Linked DNA regions of Homo sapiens: region 1 is linked to region 2. Evidence: fine-mapped expression QTL. A gene starts in region 2. The other region holds a variant in brackets. All regions are shown on one strand. Distances are from middle to middle.

Region 1 (5,341 bases), 66 kb before region 2:
TAACATTTCCAAGAAGGTTGTGGATTTCACAGGGACAGAGACCAACCACGTCAGATGTTTGGATCTTAAGACGGGTCCGATGTTGGACATCAAAAATGTTCTCAGTAAATGACCGTTGAATAAAGGAACTTGTAAGAATTCATAGAAGCCGGGTGCTGTGGCTTGTGCCTGTAATCCCAGCACTTTGGGAGGATGAAGTGGGCAGATCACGAGGTCAGGAGTTCCAGACCAGCCTGGCCAACATGGTGAAACTCTGTCTCTACTAAAAAATATACAAATTAGCTGGGTGTGGTGGCAGATGCCTGTAATCCCAGCTACTTGGGAGGCTGAGGCAGGAGAATTGCTTGAACCTGGAAGGTGGGGGTTGCAGTGAGCCAAGATTGCGGCACTGCACTCCAGCCTGGGTGACAGAGCAAGACTCTGTCTTGGGAAAAAAAACAAAGAAGGAAAAAAAAAAGAATTCAGAGCAAGGAATTCTCAACAACCAGCCCTGTGATGGGAGTAGAAACCTTGCAGACGAAAAGAAAGAACATATTGTTTTTTAGAGGAACAGTCTGTGATGTCCTATGGGTGTTCTCAGGTGAGTGAGGAGGAAGGGGATCTGATATGTAAGTGCCAGCAAAGGCATGCCTGCTCCTGAGCCATACAACACCACACAAAGACAGGCTTTACACATGAAACCAAGGGCCAGGGAGCTGAAGTAGCAGGATGAGTTATGTGGGTAGTAAGCAGTGGAGCAGGGATAAGAACAAAGGCCTGACTCCAACATTTATGCTCTTTCTACTATACTGTTCCACCATTAATTCCACTTCCAGAACTAAGAAAATAAGTGTTTACTTCAGTTCCCGTAAGAGACATTGCTTTCTTCCCCAACTTTCTTGCTTTGTTTCTTCCTCATGTATCCCTCAGGACCAAAGATAAATGGAAAAACAGGAGTGGGAGGTAGAAAAAGGAATAAAACAAAGAACTGACATCCCAAATCCACAAAACACACCTACGATGACACACACACAAAACCCAAAATTAAAACAAAGGAGAGAATTAAGCAATTTACAGAGGAAAACCCAAATGGCCAGTAAATATATGAGATGTTCAGCCTCAGTAATAATTAGGAAAATACAAGCAAAAACCACAATGAGATCCAGCTTCACACTATCTGACTGGTAGTGGGAAGGCTGAATGGACTAGGATGGTACCTGTGGGAAGAAACTTTGAGGAGACATTTGAAGACAGACTTCACTGGATTTGCCAACTAGTCAACCAGTGGCAGGTGGAAAGAGGGAGTTAAAAATTATTCTTAGATTTCCAATGAGGATGACTGAAAGAGCAGTGATGCCATGAACAGAAATAGGGAAGTTATAAGCAGAGAAAGATCATGAGGCTTAGACATCACCGGCCCCCGAAGGTGAGAAGAAGGAATTGCTGGTATGGAGTATAAGACCTTCAACAGCATGGAGCTGCTATTTCACCGGCAGGCTGTGCTGCGCTAGTGCCCAGCTGCCTCTGAGGAAAGGTGCAGATGAATCAAAAAGAGCACGGGTGTGGCCTGGTACCTCTTTTTTAATACTTAGATTCTTTTGAGCAATGTGTGCAACTTCTAACTTTTTAGAACATCAACACGCGCATTTTGACCCCAAATCCACTTTTTACTGAATCAGTTTCTGCTTTGAGACAAAGGTAGTCTCCACTGGTGCTCCTGTAAACCTCCCCGGCCTCCCTGCTAAGCTGTCTGAACCCTGCACAAGACCTGAGGCTGTTTGCCTGCTGTGAACAAGCTCTTCTGTTTTCAGTTCCCTGGTTACAGAATGTGGTGTCCCGGCCAGGCCCAGCGGGAGAGTGGGAAGAAACACAAAAGAAGGCGGCAGGATCCCATGTGTTTCTAATCCAAAGAATATCACTGGTATGTAAGAGTGAACAAAATTGAAAATTAATACCACTTCATTCTCTGGGTTGCATGAAAGCCAAACATTTGTAAGCATTTCATTAAAAAAAATCGTTTATCTTCAATTCTCAGAAACTAATGTTTTAGAAAGGAAGAAAGCTAAC[T/C]CATACCTTCTCTAGGTTGATTCTCGATGTAAAGAACTTTCTACATTTGCCCATAAATAGAATGATTTAATATGAATTCTCTGACCTGACTTGGTTTAGAACATAAGTTTGGAAACTCCTTTGCTCTTAATACTTTAGCTGTTAAATACTAACTAACACTGAGTGTAGGAAAACAAAGATAATTTTATTCATTTGTATTTAATATGAAATTTTACTAATTTGTATTTAATATGAAGAAATATGTCTTCCCAAGTAAGCATAACTGTACTATGATGTAAAGCTACCAGATACTGGGCGTTTGTGACAGCAGTTGTAATTGAACACTGAATTCTCTCTAAGCCTTTCCTGAAGGATTAGGGTAAAAACAAAGTAGTTATCAGATAAAGGAGAAGAAAATAAGACATGTAAATCAGGTTTATTTCTGGGATATTTCTGGCATGCCTATCTTCTTCTCCAGCTCACCCTCCTGCTGCCTTCTAAGAATGCCACAGGCTAAGGACAGTTTTGCCCTAGCGTTGTTTGGACTGTAGATACTTTGAGGTAAAGGTACATCTGTGGCCTTATCAACAAAGCCTAAAGCTGAATTCTGAGGAACAGTAAAGCAGAGAGCTTCTAAGCACAACTTTGCAGTCAGACAGGCCTGGTTCAGGTTCCAGATCTGCTGACTTTATTTATGTATTTTTCTTCTAATGCTCTCTCAGCAGACTCACGTCTGCTGCCTTTCTAGGTGTGTCACCTTCAGCAAGCTAATTTGAAACTCTTGATTCTTCCCCTATCAGATAGGGAACAATGACGTCTATCTTCCATGGTTCTAATAGGACTTACATGCAATATTTTACCTATGGGAACAGTCAGCCTTGGTGGAGTTGGGGCTGTACTTTCTGGCCAAGCCAGTGGTTGGTCTCCAGTTCACTCCCTACTATGTCCCTACATTAAGCTCCGATGTCAGTAGTCACTTACCACTGGGCCCTGTGCTATTAAGTAATATGTCTAATCAAGGAGGAAGAACAAAAGACCTACAAGACTATGTATTTCAAGGAAAATGAGATTAAGACCTATTTCTTTGTGGAAATAAAAAATATTCTTCCACATTTACTATAAAAAGCCCCTAGCCAGGGTTGATCATGTAGGTTTATTGCGGCACACTAACGGCGTCTGAGTGTGTAATCCCTGACCTGACCTAGGGCAACCAACAGGCACTACTGTGACTGCCCCCATACACAGGAAAGAAATAGGTCACCTTTTCTAATTTCACTATGTTAGCTGTAAGCTCTTGACAGAGAACCTCCACATTGAATTGTACTTGTGACCTCAGGCCAGATGGTGCTGCCTGTCTGTAAGAAAAAAGAGAAAAATTATTATGGGCAGGGATGACAAGGAAAGAAGTGGAATGAACACATTTAAAATTTATTTGAACAGAAAATTGGTTTATAATAGAAGAGAATGAACATTTCATTTGTTAATATTAGACAAAGCCCTGCAGTAATCCGCAACTCCAGGCTAGATGTTTAGGGAACTAATTCTTAAAAGCTCAGCGGGAAATCTCTTAAGCTATTTTTGTTTAAGTGGATATGGTGTGTTTCGGCTTCTAAACAAAAATCAGGCAATTATTTTCAAGCACGTGGTTTCTTAGAACCCTTTTATTAACCCCTAATATCCTTTCTGTCTCCACCAGAGCATAAACTTACAAGAATTATTGTACTTTTGAGCTATTTATACTAGAACTTTACAAGTTTAGGAATGTCCTTATCTAGTTAATCAAATGTCCCTTGAAACACGAGACTTTTGTAGTTTCTTCTTTGAGATTTATCATACAACTATAATTGCCCTTGTCTCATAATCAGGCGTGAGCCACTGTGCCTGGCCTGGAGTCACTTCTTATCTCTATGCCAATATTAACTTTTTGAACAAGATGGGAGAAACTAAGGGCAGAGTATGAATCCATACCAAACTGTTTATTAGGCTTTTGTATTTTATTAGTTCAAGTGTATATTTATGGGTCAAAAATAACCTGTATGCCTGCATACATGTAAGCCACCTAAAGGTAATTCCTATGGAGTAAAGAAAGGTCCTAGAATGGTATAACACAGTATTTCTCAAAGTATAGAGCTCAGACCATTGCCATCAGCACCACCTGGGAACTTGCTGGAAATGCAAATTCTCAGGCCTCATCCCAGACCTACTATATCAGGCACTCTGGAGATGAGCCCTGAAATCTGTTTAAACAATTCTAGATAATTCTGATGCAAATTAAAATTTGAGAGCCACTGGTAGACTGAGGAGCCCATGGTCTTTGTAGTTATATAGACCTGCAGCTGAATCTGCAAACTGTAAGACATTAAACTAATTATTACTCTGAGTCTCAGTTTCTTCATCTGTAAAATGGGAACAGTTCTATTCTAAGGTTATGGTGAAAATATAATGAGGAAAAATCATCTGTATTTGTATGTGTATGTATCCATTCTAATAGAGCCTTCAGCATGTGGTGAATACTCTGTCAGGAAATATCTCTACTTCAAAAACTTGGGCTAAATGTACACTTTCTAACATGGCATAAATTATTTCACTTTTTAGGCAATGTGTCAAAAGCTTCTTGTAAATAGGTTTAAAGAAAAGAGCTCTATGTCTGAAAAGGTTTAATTAGGCCAGGCATGTTAAAAAAAAGACTGATGGAAAATCTTCACAGACACATTCAATTAATTACTAGTCACATTGATCTTGACAGTGGTCAAGAGTTTTGCAAATAAGTGAGTTAATATAAAAAGTTATACATGATAAAATGTGCTGAGTTTCTTGAATTGCTTCTTTCTCTGAGTGTCTTGATTTATTGCCATTTTACTAAGGTAAACTTGTGTAGTTTAATAAATGGGGCAAGGTCACAACTGCATCTTAGCATATTCGAGCAAGATAATGTAAAATTAGGCTTGTTTCTTGCCTTATTACTAGCAACATTACCACAACTCCAAAATAGTACAGGGTTAGGTCATTCATTTCTAGACCCTCCTACCTTTTTACTTTCCACATATACACTTAACAAAATGTCACATACAGAATGTATCTCCAATTAATGTTTACTAAGAAGGATGCTAAGTTCAGGTCAATTATTATATTAAGCAGAATGGCAAGCAGATGACAGCTAGAGGCAATCGTCTTACTCAGTATTATGGGTGTCCACAATGGAGGTTAGTAACCCCAGCTGCTCCTCCAGAGTATTAATTCTGTATCTCATGTAGAAGGTCGAGATGATTAGTGCACAGACACTGGAAACGGATGAAAGAGAAACTTTCGTTAGGTT
Region 2 (5,384 bases):
CTCAACTGCCTGGGCTCAAGAGATTCTCCCACCTCAGCCTCCCGAGCAGCTGGGACCACAGGTGTGCGCCATCATGCTTAACTTATTTTTTTTTGTCTGTAGAGACAGGGTCTCACTTTGTTGCCCAGGCTGGTTTTAAATTCCTGGGCTCAAGTGATCCTCCAGCCTCGGCCTCCCAAAGTGTTGGGATTATGGGCATGAGCCACAGTCCCTGCCTGGCCTGAGTCAACTTTTTCAGATGTCACACTTAAGTGAGAACATGCAGTGTTTGTTTTTCTATTCCTGGCTTATTTTGTCTAACATACGTCCTCTAGGTTCATCCATGTCACAAATGATCTTTCTTTTTAAAGGCTGAATAATATTGTGTATATATACCACATTTTCTTATCCCTTTATCCATTGATAGACACTTAGATTGATTTCGTATCTTGTGTATATAGCACATTTTCTTATCCATTCATCTGTTGATGGACACTTAGGTTGATTTCATATCTTGGCTATTGTGAGTAATGTGCAATGAACATGGGAGTGCTGCATATCACTCCTTTAAGTATAGGGCTGCTAGTATGATTGTTTGGCTATAAAAGATGTGCATGCTGACTAGTATTAGGAAGTGAGGTTGCAATGGTCTGTGTGGGTCCAGATCATGAAGGATCTTAAAATCTTGGCAGAGAAGCCTATTTTTAAGAGTAGGCCATGGAAGGCCATCATAGATTCTGGAACAGAGGAACCAGTGTACAGCATAGTGGTTCTAAGTTCATGCTGTAAAGTTAGGAGACCTGGGCTTGAATCCTGGCTGCTCTTTTATTAACTTTGTGACTCTGCCTAGCTGCTTAGCTTCTCAGAGCTTCAGTGCTTTTATCTGCAACATGGAAATAATAGCACCTGCCTCATTCTTTGTGAGAATGCATTTAAAGTATTGAGCACACTCCCTGTCACATAGTAAGCATTCTCAGTAAGTGCCAGCTACTATTATTTAGGAGGCTAAGGCTCTAGGTGATGAGGTCTACATGGGTGCAGTTACAGACGCAGGGAAATTGTGAGGAGCAAGTCATTCTAATCCTCTTAGAAGAAATGTCCATGGGGACACCCAGACTTCAACAAGACTTTGAGCCTAGTGATAATTAATGTAAGTTATGAAGTTCAAAACAGAAGTTAGACCGGGTTTCTAAGCACAAAAATTTGGCAACTTAAAATGATTTCAAAGTGGAATTATCACATCAGTATAACCTTATGATAATACATATCCCTCCTTCCTAAATTACTCATATCCTGATACCAGAACAAGAGTTTTAGAGCTCAGAAGGGTTAGTGTCTAAAATCATAGACTGAATTAGAAGTGACTTCAGTAGGCTTAGAAAATACCACTTTGTAGGAAAAAAACAACCTCTCCTCCCAAACCAATTTTACCAAAGACTGCAAAATAGATAAATATTTTAAAAGTAGAGAAGACTCAATTATAGGCTAAACTCTTTATCATACCTTGTCTGTGTGTTTAATGTGGCAATGGTCACCAAAGTCCCTTGAAGTACAGTAATATTCATTTGTGCCTCCCCCATCCCCACTCTGCTCTTGAAGTTCCAGAAGGGCAGATCCAAAATAACATTTATCCTTGTATTGCCCATCGTTATTGAACAAGTAGATACTCAATTATTTGCTGAACTAAAATGAATTTGTGAAAATGGTCATTCTAAACGAAGGGCTGTGTTGGGACTTTGAGCTTCAATGTGGTTAGGCTTATTTTCTACAAAATTATTTTCCCAACATCCAGTGAGTTTTGAATTAAGAGAATTTGTTTAAATCCTACAGTAGACTTTTCAATCAATCTAAACCATCTCCTTAACTGAATATCTAGACAGAGAGAGAGAGTGAGAGACAGAGAGAGCGCGCCACAAGATTGTCCATATAGGAGCTCCAGAAATCCGCATCCACCCAAAATGCGTCCCGGGGCAGAGAAGTTTAGGCTGCGCTCCTCCCACCTCCTTGGATGGGTCCCAGCTGAGAATACTCACTGGGCTGAGCCAAGTTTGCTCTCCCTCTTCCCGAGCACTTTCGCAGGCTTTGTGTCTTCCACATCTTGCTGTAGTTCAGTCATCGGGGCCGTGTCTGGAGGGCACCTTCAGACTTCCGCGCGCCTGGCTCTGCCCCGGCTCGTCCCGGCTTCTAGGTCCGGGTGCGCAGGCCAAGCAAGCGGCGCCGTGCCCTCCCCTGCACCCTCCGCCCAGCGCATCCAGGCCGGGCCGCGCCAAGCTCCCGGGGCCGCGGACCTGGACACGTCGGAGCGGGCGCGATTGGTCCGACCCACTGTGGAAAAGCCGAGAGGGAGGGAAGGGGAGGGTCGAAGCGAAGTGACAGCCTCTTTCCCCAACCCAGGAGGCAGAGAAGAGAAAAAGGAAACCTGTTGAACGAGTCTTTCGGGAGAGGAAGCTAATTGGCCAAGCAGGTGGAACATTTGCCTAAGAAGGCACAATCTGTTTAGCCTCCTGGTAAATTAAGCTTTTTGTTTTCTATCCCGACTGTAACAGGGGGATTTTTAGAGGGCAGCCGGCTCTAGATACCGGAAATGGAGACGTCTGAGTGGGACGCCCTGTCACACAAATGCGCTGTGTGGGCTGGCCTATGCCCCATCCTAAATTATTCAAACAGGATATTGCTTCATTGAGGGACTGCCTCTTCTGCTTAAACAATAGGTCTGCTCAATTTTTTATGTGGGAATAACAAAGGTAATAAGTAGTTGCCTTTGGTGGTGTTTTGGTTAACCCTTCATCGTTCTGGGGTGGGGGGGGTGGTTAGAGGGGCAAAGAAGAAGCAACCATCAAAATCTTCAAATATTGGGTTATGACTGTTCTCATCAAAATCAAAATTGGTGTTTGATAATTCCCAAGCCGTCTCTTTGTTGCCCATAGTTGTGCAAGTACCTTATTTACTATGCACTCAACCAGTACCGTGAATGCCTCTTCTTCCCACCTTTTGGTGACATTTTGACTTGCCTGTTCTAAGGTTTTGTATTGGAAGCATTCACTCATTCATTCATTGAACAAACTTTTGAGAGCTACAAAGTTCCAGGCATTGTTCTCAATCAGGGGTGTCCAATCTTTTGGCTTCCCTGGGTCACATTGGAAGAAGACGAACTGTCTTGGGCCACACATAAAATATACTAACACTAAGGATAGATGATGAGCTTTAAAAAAGGTCTGTGCAGGGGCCAGGCACGGTGGCTTACGCCTGTAATCCCAGCAGTTTGGGAGGCCGAGGCGGGTGGATCATTTGAGGTCAGGAGTTCGAGACTAGCATGGCCAACCTAGTGAAACCCCATCTCTACTAAAAATACAAAAATTAGCTGGGTGAGGTGGCGCAGGCGCTTGTAATCCCAGCTATTTGGGAGGCTGAGGCAGGAGAATCACTTGAGCCTGGGAGATGGAGGTTGTGGTGGGCCAAGATGCACCACTGCACTCCAGTCTGGGCAACAGAGTGAGACCCTGTCTCAAAAAAAAAAAAAAAATCCGTGCATAAATGTCACCATGTTATAAGACAGTTTATGAATTTGTATTGGGCTATATTCACAGCTGTTCTGGGCTGCAGGTTGGGCAAGCTTGTATAAACATTGACTTGTTATAGCAAATGACATTTGTATTGGTGGTTTTCTAATTTGCAATGGAGTAGTTGACAATTAGAATAATTAATATAAACGTTATTATTGGAAGCCTGACTTGACTTCAAAACAATTACAAGTGGCAACAGTAGAGCATGACATGCCTGGGAAAAAACGACTAACTATGTTCTGGGGCTGCAAGTCCTTCATTTTTCTCTTAAAATAAAGTTTAGATTTAAGAGTATTACAAAGACTATACAACCATAGTATGTACATGTATGTATGTAGTTTGTAGGGTGTATGTGTGTGTAAAACACCTAACCTTCTAAATAACTTCAAACATTTTGGAGGTGCAAGTTCTTTCCAAAGTTTTCTTATTCCTTCTCTTTTTACATATATATCATTAGGCTGAGAGAACAAAAGCATCTTTTTGTAGCCTGCTTGCTCCAAAATTGATGTTTGTGACATTTGAAAAATAAGTAAAAGAAAAAGCTTACATAAATTCCAGAAGAGTTGGCTTAGTCAGGCCTCTCTCTCTTTTTCTTTCCTGACCACTGACTGCTTTGCTATAGGAGCTGTGCTAGGTGGGATGGGGAAAACTCTGGGTGACCTGAAAGCTTGAAGGCTGTCTCCTTGGTGCCCATAGTTGCCTCTTCCTGGGGACATTCCTGATGCCTTCACCTCTAGATCCCCACCCTCCTCAGAATAGGGATAGGTTTGGAACAGAGATGAGGTTGTCAATTTCCCAAACTCTGGATGAGGACTCTCAGATCTCAGGTGCACTCCAACTTCTCATTACAGAGCTCAGATCAGACTGACTTTTCCCCGCTAAGTAATTTATTTATTGTGGTAAAATATACATAACATTACTATTTATCATTTTAATAAGTGTATAATTCAGTGGCATTCAACACTTTCACAATGTTATTTAACTATCACCACTTATCTGTACCCAAAACTTTTTTTTATCATCCTTGGCATAAACTCCCATTAAATACATTAAACAATAACTCTTTCTTTCTCACCTCCTCCCAGCCTCTGGTAGCCTCTAGTTTACTTTCTGTCTCTATAAATTTGTCTGTTTTAGGTACCTCACATTAGTGGAATCATACAATATTTTTCCTTTTGTGTCTGGCTTGTTTCACTCAGTGTAATGTTTTCAAGGTCAATCCATGTCATAGCATATATCCAAATTTCATTTTTTTTTGGCTGGATGATATTCCATTGCATGTATATACCACATTTGGGTTGCCCGTTTATCTGTTGATGGACCCTTGGGTTGTTTCTAGCTTTTGTCTATTGTGAATGATGCTGCTATGAACATGGGTGTGCAAATGTTTGTCTGAGTCCCTGATTTCATTTCTTTTGGATATATACCTAGGAGTAGACTTGCTGGGTCATATGGTAGTCTATGTTTACCCTTTTGAGAAATCATGGTCAGCCCTCTTTTAATGCATGAGTAAGGGCAAGTATTCAAAGCAGTCTTAGCATGGGCTTATGGCTCAAATAAAGAGCACTCAGTTACCCTAAAATAGCTTAAAGTTCTTTAGTGCATGGTATAAGGACTTCCAATGGTGTGGTTTTAAGTGAGAAGGAGCAGGTGAGGTTGAAGTGGAAGGCAGGGCTGGTAGGGAAAATATCAGTCTTTTCCTAGAGTGGAAGAATTAGAAAGGAGCAAGTAAGCTACAATATTTTACCTACTGATGTTTGCTTACGTTTAAAAGGCATTGTTAAACAACTGCCTAATTTGTTTATTCTTGGGGCTATTCTACAGTAATATATGGAATATAGT

Which allele goes with the higher level. Alleles are on the strand shown, and positions count from the first base shown. SD is a standard deviation of normalised expression in the study named.
In carriers of allele C in region 1, the expression in tibial nerve of the gene that starts at base 2,293 in region 2 tends to be lower than with T alone (moderate effect, 0.43 SD a copy in GTEx).

What was found. PIP is the estimated chance that this variant, and not a neighbour inherited with it, causes the effect.
Region 1: its variant is the best candidate, but not a certain one, in a credible set for the expression of GRAMD2B in tibial nerve (GTEx, PIP 0.82).

The regions. Positions count from the first base shown.
Region 1 is chr5:126,486,838-126,492,178 of GRCh38, reverse strand. It overlaps GRAMD2B (GRAM domain containing 2B), which reads right to left. Exons shown (of 14, transcript NM_023927.4): 12 at 5,202-5,306; 13 at 3,287-3,380. Among named protein-coding and RNA genes, the nearest start is that of GRAMD2B, 66 kb to the right of the region's middle. The variant T/C (reference allele first, on the strand shown) is at 2,047.
Region 2 is chr5:126,420,318-126,425,701 of GRCh38, reverse strand. It overlaps GRAMD2B (GRAM domain containing 2B), which reads right to left and starts at 2,293. Exons shown (of 14, transcript NM_023927.4): 1 at 2,013-2,293. The coding sequence starts at 2,095. RefSeq lists a silencer at 2,189-2,318.